Linked DNA regions of Homo sapiens. The protein of the gene in region 1 purifies or fractionates together with the protein of each later gene. This does not show direct contact. Each region holds a gene or a part of one and is shown on either strand. Other genes may lie near its edges.

What was found.
Region 2: the proteins of IFT56 (region 1) and PANK4 purify together in Homo sapiens (affinity purification with mass spectrometry; one large-scale study listed by BioGRID and IntAct). This does not show direct contact.

What each region holds. Positions count from the first base shown.
Region 1 is NC_000007.14:139,143,778-139,149,012, reverse strand, and holds part of IFT56 (intraflagellar transport protein 56), read right to left. Parts: intron 2,030-5,235; exon of another isoform or gene 1,869-2,029; coding exon 1,723-1,868; intron 808-1,722; coding exon 636-807; intron 1-635. UniProt on the Homo sapiens protein: Component of the intraflagellar transport (IFT) complex B required for transport of proteins in the motile cilium.
Region 2 is NC_000001.11:2,508,633-2,513,867, forward strand, and holds part of PANK4 (4'-phosphopantetheine phosphatase), read right to left. Parts: intron 4,408-5,235; coding exon 4,256-4,407; intron 3,052-4,255; coding exon 2,996-3,051; intron 2,756-2,995; coding exon 2,706-2,755; intron 2,151-2,705; coding exon 2,046-2,150; intron 1,526-2,045; coding exon 1,425-1,525; intron 1,299-1,424; coding exon 1,230-1,298; intron 429-1,229; coding exon 215-428; 3' UTR 1-214. UniProt on the Homo sapiens protein: Phosphatase which shows a preference for 4'-phosphopantetheine and its oxidatively damaged forms (sulfonate or S-sulfonate), providing strong indirect evidence that the phosphatase activity pre-empts damage in the coenzyme A (CoA) pathway.

The sequences.
Region 1 (5,235 bases):
GGTTTCTAATGTGGTTTACTGGATGTATGTTGGTGGCATTCAATCACAGAGCCACACACATATTTTAGAGGAAGAAGCTGAAGCATTTGTTTTTTGGTTTTTGGGTTTTTTTGAGACAGAGTCTCGCTCTGTCACCTAGGCTGGAGTGCAGTGGCTCAATCTCGGCTCACTGAAACCTCCACCCGCCCCCCGAACCCCCCAGTAGCTGGGATTACAGGCATGCACCACCACACCCAGCTAATTTTTTGTATTTTTAGTAGAGATGGGGCCATGTTGGCTAGGCTGGTCTCAAACTCCTGGCCTCAAGTGATCTGCCCGCCTTGGCCTCCCAAAGTGCTGAGCCACAGCGCCCGGCCAGAAGCATTTGGTTTTAAACATAAGCATTTGGTTTTAAATGTAGGGCATCTCAGTAAAATCATCTACAATTTAATGGACATAACACAGATAATTCAGAAGTCAACATTCTTTTTAGAATACCTGATAAACATATAATTAGGTTCTTATAGAATCACAGTGGCAATGATAAAGGGATATTAATCAAGAGTTACAGATAACAGAGTTTCATGAATAACTTGGAAAGTATAAAGTAATTCAAATTGGAATGAAGTACATTAAAAACACACTTCCATCAATACCTCAGCTGCTCTGCCATTGTAAAGGCGAAAATGGTTACAGGCTTTAAGATTGAGTGCGATGGTACTATCAGGAATTTGCTGAAGGTAAACAGCCAAAACTTCTTGAGACACATCATAGTAATCCAACTTGTAGTAGCAGAGGGCCACATAAACATTAAGGGCAAGGTATTCCCTATTAGATGAAAGAATTAGGGTTAACCATTTAAGTCTACTTCACGGAAATGTCAAATTACAAAGCTCAAATGGACAAGGCAAAGAGGACAGTTCATGAACCTGCCTTATGAAGAAAGAGGGCAAGATATGATCAGTATAATTTTTTTCTTTTTGCATTGCAATATTTGGGTGTTTTGATATAAGTAGAATGAAAGATGACTAGAGAAGAAAGGGAAAGTTCACGCTGTTCACACTGAAAAACTAATATATGCAATAATTGAACATAAACACAAGCACACTCCACACAGAAGACCAACAGACAAGACACATAGGCTTGATGGCTGGAAATGGAAGCAGGTAGGAGACTAAGAAGGTAATGCAAAAGAGGATGGAAAGAAGGGGGATGAGATATTTTTGGGAAGGGAGAGAGAGGCCAAGTGTTTAAAGTTGGAATGTAAATTCTTAAGAATGATTTGTATCTAATTTTGTCAGCAAGTTACCTACGATGTAACTATAACACTAAGTTTGATACATCTAGACCATACATTTCAACTGGGGTAATATCAGTATTACCCCCAAAGGGGAAAAATTGGTTCTTAATGGGAGGATGAAAAAATCATAATCATTTTATATGTAAAGCACAGTTATACATATAGTACATATATGGATATATATTAATATACATCTATCAGTATATTAAAATTTCATGGGAGGGCAATTGGGGGAAAAAGTCTTTTAGAAGGGTGACAATGCAAAAAAAGGTAGAGAAAGCCTGATTTAGACAATATCTAATTCTTAATCTCACCAAATTATCAACTAAACAGATTTGAACACATAGTGGTACTAGATCCAGAGGACACTAGATTCTCAAACTAGTTAAAGAAGAAACTAACAAAATGAAAGGAATGGAGAGTGGGCATAAAAGGACACAGACCTGTTATCTAGCAGTATTCGCTTATATATATCTATAGCTTCTTGGTAGTGAGATCGCATATAGTGGATTGAGGCCAAACTGAGTTGATCTTCTGTGACATCCTGAAGATTTTGATGAAAGCTCATCAATTTTTTCTCATCATTAAACTAAAATTGTGAGAGTGGAAAAGACATGTAAAGATTCATATTAGTGTTGTTAGAGAAATCAATATCTATGTGATAGAGATTTTAACTCTTCCTTCTTTAGCCATTGTGTCTCTCTCTTCTTCCTATTTCCCTTAGGTTCTTTGTCTTCTACTTCATTTCTCCTGCAAAGAAACAATGGAAATAGCCTCTGGAGGCATAGCTTGACAACGACAATGGAAAGCCCTTAGGTTACAGTTAATACTATTTGACCCTTCCCCTTATCTTTTCTTTTTCTTTATATTTTCTCCCTTTCCTTTTCTTTTTCTGTCTACTCTCTTTACTATTACCTGGTAACATTTTTAATCTGTTCTTTCTTTCTTCTTTTTTTTTTTTTTTTTTGAAACGGAGTCTTGCCCTGTCCCCCAGGCTGGAGTGCAATGGCACGATCTCGGCTCACTGCAACCTCTGCCTCCCAGGTTCAAGCAATTCTCCAGCCTCAGCCTCCCAAGTTCCTGGGATTACAGGCGCATGCCACCACGCCCGGCTAATTTTTTGTATCTTTGGTAGAGATGGGGTTTCACCATGTTGGCCAGGCTGGTCTTGAACTCCTGACGTCGTGATCCGCCCACCTCAGCCTCCCAAAGTGCTGGGATTACAGGTGTGAACCACTGTGCCCAGCCAATCTGTTCTTTCATATCTCGTTCTTCTTGGTAGACAATAGGGAATCAAAATGTATTTCTCATCATGTAACCTAGTGTATTCAATTTTTAATTTCCTGCTCTACATTTTTTCATCCTTTCTTCAGTTACTATATATTGTTGTTGTTTGAGATTGTCAGAATTCTATTCCAACCTTGTAATGCTTATTTTGTTAGATGGCTGCCGCAAATATTAGCTGCCTTTTGCTTATATATGGGGCAGAACAGATATATTTTTGACAGTGACCCTTAATATGTAGATTGCTCACTCCTGCCTGTTACAGAGAATGACTTATTAGCTTAAAAATTTTGTAAAGAATTGTCTTCTGTAGACTATCTAGTTACATGGAAAAATGTTCATGATACATTTTTAAGTGAAAAGCCTGGTTATAAAACAGAATATATACTATGATACAAATTTGGCAATATAAATATACACATATATACACATATAAAAATACAAATTTTTTAAAGACTGGAAGAAAAGAGAGTAAAATATTACAGTGTTAGCTCTAAGTGGCAGTCTTACAGGAAATCTTGATTTTTGTGTGTATGCAATTTGCTATTTTCTAAAAGTACTATGATGAACATGTATTATTTTTGTAATCAGAAGAAAAACACAATAAAATATATTTCTTTAAATTCAATCAAAGACTTTCACTACTAATAATATTAGAGTAGCTTGTAGTATGCAGTGCTCCCACCAAGAACATCTAGAAAATCTTAAAAACTACTGAAAAATCTGTGTAAAAGGGGCAGGGGCAGTGGCTCACGCCTATAATCCCAGCACTTTGAGAGGCTGAGGTGAGCAGATCACTTGAGCTCAGGAGTTTGAGACCAGCCTGGGCAACATGGTAATACCCTGTCTCTACAAAAATTGGCTGGGCATGGCAGTGCACACTTGTAATCTCAGCTACTTGGGAGGCTGAGGCACAAGGATTGCTCAAGCCTGGGAGGCAGAGGTTACAGTGAGCTGAGATGGCGCCATTGCACTCCAGCCTGGGTGACGGGGAGTGATATCCTGTCTCAAAAAAACAAACAAAAAAAATCTACGTGAAGGGTTCAGAGAGCTACCAAGTGAGTGAAGACTTGAGATACCAAGATCCCAAGCAGAACAGAAGTGCAAAGAGGTGATTCTGATATTTAGTACCATTTTTTTCTCTAATGGTACCTATCAATTCTCAATTGGTGGCTGAGTTGCTGAAAACTAAGCGAGCTTCAAGAAGTCTTATGGGCTTAATGGACAAAAAAATAGAGATTGGGGCCCACCAAGCTATCAGTTGGGACCCCTGGAAAGCTACCCTAGAAACAGAGGTAAAATGGAAATAGACCAGCTTTAAATTGTTGCAATCTCTGACAGGTATCAGTTGATTTGCCCCTTTTCTATGTGCCTGCCAGAAGTAAAAGTAAATTCTAAATCCTCTCTGGAAGAAGACAAAAGCATCCAGAGACTCGAATTATCTCTCTATATTTTAATATACAATAGCCAGCATTAAACACAATATTGCCAAGCAAACCAGGAGATAAGAACATTTGACTGAAAACCAGGAAACAGCTGTCCAGAGATACACTATTGGAATTACTAGACATGGACTTTAAAAATAACTTATTATCAATATATTTAAGAAATTAAATTAAAAATTAGGAAATTTTAACTGGAAATTAGAAATTTAAAAAGTAATAAAATGTAAATTCTAAAAATAAATACAATAACTGAAATTAAGAACGAAATAGATAAATGGAATAGCTGGTTAGACACAGCTGAAGAATGATGATTAGTAAAATAAATTTCTGTGGAAATATACAGAAAATGTGACAAAGTGTTTACATGCGATACAAACAAAAGGTCTACATACATACATACATACATATTACTGGGAGCCTAGAAGGAAAGAAGAGAGTATAGAGCAGAAGCAAAATTTGAAGTAACAATGACCAAGGATTCTTTTAATTAAAAAAAGAAAAGACCTCGAGCAAGCACTATGAACCTGATGTAGTGTAATACAAAGAAAACCATATCTGGGAATATTATAGGAAAAGTGCTAATAACAAAAACCAATGTATAAATCTTAAACATGATCAGAAAAAAAATCTTCATAGGAGCAACAATTAGACTGATGGCTAACATCTCAGTAGAGACAAGGACCTAGGAAGCAATAAAGCAACATCTTCAAAATGCTAAGCAAAAATAATTACCTACCTAGAACTCTACACTGAGAAAAAAATCCTTTAAAAAACCATAGTCAAATAAAAATATGTTTAGACAAAAACTGAGAGAATTCATCACCACTAAAGGAAATATTAAAGGAAATTCCTCAAATGGAAAATGATTTCAGATAGGAGCACAAACATGCAAGAAGAAATGAAGAGCAATGGAAAGGAAAAATATGGCTAATTATAAATGAATATTAACTGCATAAAACAGTAATAAAACAGTCTTATGGGATTAGAAACATATAGACACTTAAAATATTTTTCAAATTTGCACATAAGATGGAGAGTAAATGAGTTTAAATGATCTAAGGTCCTTTAATTTTTCTAGAAATTGGTAAAAGTACTAATCAATATCAAACTTTTTAATATGCAAAATACACATGATATGGTAACTGCTAAAATAATATTCCCAATGTACATAACTAGCAAGCAAATCGAGGATAAATATATAGTTTTAAAAATCAATCCAAAAAAAGG
Region 2 (5,235 bases), on another chromosome or scaffold:
AGGTTCTTTAGCAGTTAAATAGATTCCAATATGAACGTCTCCCAGGACAAAGCTGCGTCTCGCCTCTGGGTCACACGCATCTGTGCGGCTGGGGTGTATGTGCCGCGTCACAGCAGTACCATATAAATACGTTGATTTGAACGCAGTTTCCCTGTGGTGGTAAAAACACATTCCTGACAAGTGACAAGCAGAAGAGTCCGGCAGCTGCAGCGCCTCACTCGGCTGGGACCTCGTACTTGAAGATGACGCTGAAGAGCCGGCCGCCCAGCCGCTCGGCCAGCCACGCGTTCTTGATGACGGCCAGCTTGAGGCTCTCGCAGCGCAGGGCTGCGTGGTAGTTTGTGTGGACAGCACGGCCCATGCCCTCGATGACCACCAGATCCGCGCCACGCTCCCGCACCAGTGCGGCCAGCCCCTTATCCAGGCGGCTTTGGGGAGGAAGAGGACGGTGAGACTGGGCAAGCAGACCCCAGACCCCACTTCCCATACAGTGCGGCGACCAACGTGAAGGCTGAAACCCCTACCGCTCAATTCCCTGATGTGGAGGCCTCCAAACCCAGCCTCCGCCTGGTAGCTGCCTCAGCCTGGGGCTTCCTCAGAGCAGCAGCTCACACAGGGCCAGAGCAGCTGCAGCTTGGAAACTCTGCCCTAGATCTCCTGTGAACTCTAGGGATGGATTCCTTGTCATTTTCACGCCCTCCTTGTTGGTGAGAGTGGGGCTGGGGCACAGATGAAGCCAGCACTGGAGAATCCCACCAGGCAGAGCAGACCAGCGGCCCCAGCACTCAGAACCCGCTCATTTAAGGGGTTCCTTCCTCCTCTGCAATCAGGAGGACAGACAGCACCACATACAATTGACTAATGACCTCCAGAACCACAGAAGCAGAGCCTGGCATCTATGTGGGACACGGAGGTGACAGACACCGGGCAGCTGCCCAGGTCGCCCTCGGTCTCAGCTGAGTGGCCACAGGGACATTGGCCCCTCTTGCCCCAAGTCCCCAAACCCAGCCCATGTGTAACCACCTCAGACCCTGAATCCATTCACCCTCCCCAGGCCACCTTCGGGGATGGCATATCTGTCCCCTCCTGAGATCAATCCGGGCCTGGGGTCAGGAGAGGCCGCAGGGGCAGTCCTGAGGTCGGTGTCCCGCATGCACCTGGGTGCAGGTGCACGGCACAGAGGGCACAGAGCCCAGGAGGGAGAGAACAGGTGCAGGGTGCGGGGTTACCTGAGGTCGAGGCACGGGGAGCTGGAGCCCGTCTGCACCAGCAGCAGCCTCTCTTCCTGGAGCGCAGAGCTGCCAGATACAAGGTGGTCAGTGCCCCCAGGAGCTCCCAGTTCAGTGACAATCCCCATGGCCCACTCTGCCCAGCTGGTGCCCCTCCCCATCAAGGCCCCCCCAGCACTGCCCGCCAACACTCACTGCACGACAGGGTCCATGCCCGCAATACGCTCTGCCACGATGAGGGACTCGCTGTGGGTCACGTCGTTCAGGGCGGGGCCTGAGTTGCACGCCAGGATGACCTGCAGGAGGAGGGCCCAGGCTCTTTAGGAACCTGTGCTGGCCCAGCATGGAGCCTGCGTGCACCCCGGCCTTCGAGTGGCTGGGCTGGGTGAGGGTGCTGTGCCCAGCGGGCCTGGCCAGCCACCTGCTGCTGAGGAGCAGGGACCTCGCCTGACCTTGCCACTCTGTGGCCCCTGGGAGGGAGCTGAGCCGAGGGGCAGAGCTGAGTTTAGAGCCTGCCCCTGGGACCTGCCTGTCTGTGAAGTCACAGCCCCAAAGCCTCCTTGCTGTGAGCACCCTTCCAGGAGCCTGGCGTCAACCCTGGGCTTCAGCACATGGACCCTCAGCCTGAGCCCAGGGGGCTCGGAGCCTCCACCCCAGCAGATGACGGCTCTGGGCCGCCTCCCCCGTGCTGCTGCCTGCACCTACCTGCTGCGTCCGGAGGAGCCCCGACCACCGCCAGAGGCCCACAGCGGCGCCAACCCCACCGAGAGCAGAGAAGCCCAGGGGAAGGGCCCCACCCACCACCTCAACACTCACCTCTGTCCCTCTAAGGAGTAGCTCCCTGACAAAGGGGAAGACTCCCAAAATGATGTCTATTCCACTGTTATCTGCGAAAATTAAGGCACATTTATGAGGGGGCCCCTGTAAGACAAAACCAGGACGTTCAGTTGGGAACAGGCGCATCCAAGCGAGTCAGTCCGCACCCCTGCTGCCCGTCACGCTGCCCTGCAGGGGCCGAGACTGGGGGCTTCAGGGCCCCAGAGATGCCAGGGATGGGCTGTCCTGCAGGGGCCGAGACCAGGGGCTTCAGGGCCCCAGAGGTGCCGGGACTGGGCTGGGCTGCAGGGGCTGAGACCGGGACTTCAGGACCCCAGAGGCACCGGGACGGGCCAGCCTGCAGGGGCTGAGACTGGGGCTTCAGGACCCCAGAGGCGCCAGGGACGGATTGGCCTGCAGGGGCCAGTGCCTGTCTCTTCTGGCAAGGCTTTGTGCCTAGAGCAGGTGACCTAAGAAGCAGTCACGACAGGAGGGCAAGTGTGGGGCAGGGGATGCTGAGACCCTTGGCTCGCAGGATGGTGAGACTCTAACAGGAGGGGAGGGCCACCCGAGGCAGCCCATGCCCACCTCCCTCCAGTGACCACCCCCCCGGGCCCCGCTGTGTCCCCAGCAGCAGAGGTGGGAGGCCCCTCCACATACCTTTAATCTCTGAAGCCACTCGCTGTAGGAATCCACGAGCCAGGGTCTTTCTGAGACAGAGAGAGGGACACATGATTAGCCCGGTGCTCCAGGTCAGGGGTCAGGGAGACGCGTCTTCAGGTGTTCGTCTCTCCAGGAAGCAAGTTCTCCCCGCCCCCGAAGCCCAGCTGACAGAGCCTTGAGCAGGGGAGGTGCCTGGACCCCGACCGCAACTGCATTCGCTGTTGCAGAGAACGTCCAGGCATGGCCCCAGCACAAGGCAAGGCCCCAAGTTACTTGGCCATCCGTACCTTGTAACTTCCTCTTTGCTTCTTCAAACCCAAAGTAGGGGTCGGATTCAAGGACACTGCATGGAGGAGGAGAAAAGAAAATTAAGACAACAGAACAAAAACCTTCAGCCACAGTGCTCAATGTGAAGACCCCAAATCCCTCCCAGGCGGGACAGAGGCAGCTGCTCAATGTAAAGATCCCAAATCCCTCCCAGGTGGGACAGGGGCAGCTGCTCAACGTGAAGACCCCAAATCACTCCCAGGCAGGACAGAGGCAGCTGCTAAGACCCCAAATCCCTCCCAGGTGGGACAGAGGCAGCTGCTCAACGTGAAGACCCCAAATCACTCCCAGGCAGAACAGATACAGCGTTCTTAACATGCTGCGATCCGCAGAAGGCTCAGGGGGCCACCAAGCAAAGGTCTGAGAGAGCACAGGCTGTTTCTCAAGGTGGACTCGGAGCCACGGGGCCAGGGAAGCCTCTCGGTGACTGGCAGCCGCAGTATGGTCCCTGTGCTTGGCACCCATGCAGGCGGTGTGGGGAGCCCCCAGCCACAAGGCCAATCCCATGGGTCAGGACCCTCCTCCAATGCTCCTGACAGGCTGCGGGAGGGGCCTGTGTCCCAGAGGGGCAGCCATGGTTGGAGGCGGCGTTCTCATCTATGTCTCGAGACACGAGTGGGACCCAGGGAGGGCTGAGAACCCAGGCATTTCCCTCCAGCCCCACATGAAAAAAAGCAGGGACCACGAGAGGTGGTGCGGCCGCCTGGGGAGGCCCAGAGACTGGAAGCAGCTTCTTTGGGAGTGAAGGTAAATGATGGTGGGGGGGTTCATTTTCAAGATTCAGAGCCCCAGGAGACGGCGCCAGGTGCTAGACACCTGCGTGTCCTACAGGCCAGTCTAGGGGACTGCTTTGCAAAGCACCCTTTGATCATCACATCAGAAATGTTTAATTCCTACCACACATAGGAAACATGAATTTGGATTCTGACAATAGAAAATGCCAGCCCCGATTTTCAAATCCACACCCTTAGGCCTCTGCGGCACCCATGCTTAAGGAAGGGGCCTCCTCAGAACCTGAGGGGACAGACAAGGGCGCTGCGCCCTGCCCAGCCCCTGGCGCTGCTGCCATGTGCACTCCCTGGGCCCCAAAGCCCTGAGCCACCAAGCCACCAAGCGCCACGTGACCCCCAAGGGACCCGCTCCACCTCCTTGCCCGCAAGCCTGGGGCAGGACAGGCACCCACAGGCTGCAGAGCCTGCTCCGAGCCCGCAGACACCTACGCAGACACGGCTTTGGCCCCCCAGTCGAAGACATTCCCCGCCAGGAGGCCTTTCACCAGCGCCAGCTGCCGTTCCTCCCAGCCCAGCGCGTCCAGGGAGCGCACGACCCCGGGGAAGCACCTCAGCGCCACGCCATTCTCCCGCTGCTTCACCTGTGGAGAGTGCCAGATGCCAGGCCTGAGTGAAGACGTGGCCTCAGCCCACCCTGGACACCTGCCAGGCGCAGCCTGTTCCATACCACGCCCCTCAGGATCGAAGACTCAGGCCCAACTGGGACCCCACCAGGCACAAGCCTATCGGTCCGGGACAGTGGCCAGCGCACAGCTGCACGGGGCTCTGAGGACGAGGCCCAGGACAACTTCAGCCCCCATGTGACTGAGCAGTGGGTGAAGGGCAGGACAAGAGTGGAGGACACGGCCCCCACAGGTACCCACAGCCCTGGCCTCAAAACCCTCGACACCCAGACTTCCGCTGTCACAAGGCTCGGCGTGTGAGGGGAGGGAGGCATGGCGCTGGCCCTTCCCAGAAGAGGTGGGAGGAGTCCATGCCTCCGCTGCTGCCCGCTGCCTCCTGGCAGAAAGGGCCAAGGAGGGCTCTGGCCGCCAGACTTGGGGAAGCAAAACGGACGCCCGGAAAGGCCCACCTTGCACGGCCCTGCACGTTGCCGGGATAGGAGGCCTCTGGTCACTGTCCAGCCTCCTAGGAGGGAGCCAGGGTGGTCCAGGGTTCCAGCCCCTCCCCATGAGGGGAAAGCAGTCCCCAACCACAATCGCCCACCCTCACAGAAGCTGGGAGGCCCTTGGCTCCTGCAGGCAGGCAGCCTGTGTCTGTCAGGAACACATCCAAACTGGGGTTCACACCCTTCTTCTCTAGTCACAGCAGTCCCCACCCCTAAGTGGCCCCAGCATCTGTGGGGGTAACACAGCTCCTCAGCAGATGCTGCCAACAGAGGCCCTGGCTATTGTGGTGCCAGGGCTGGA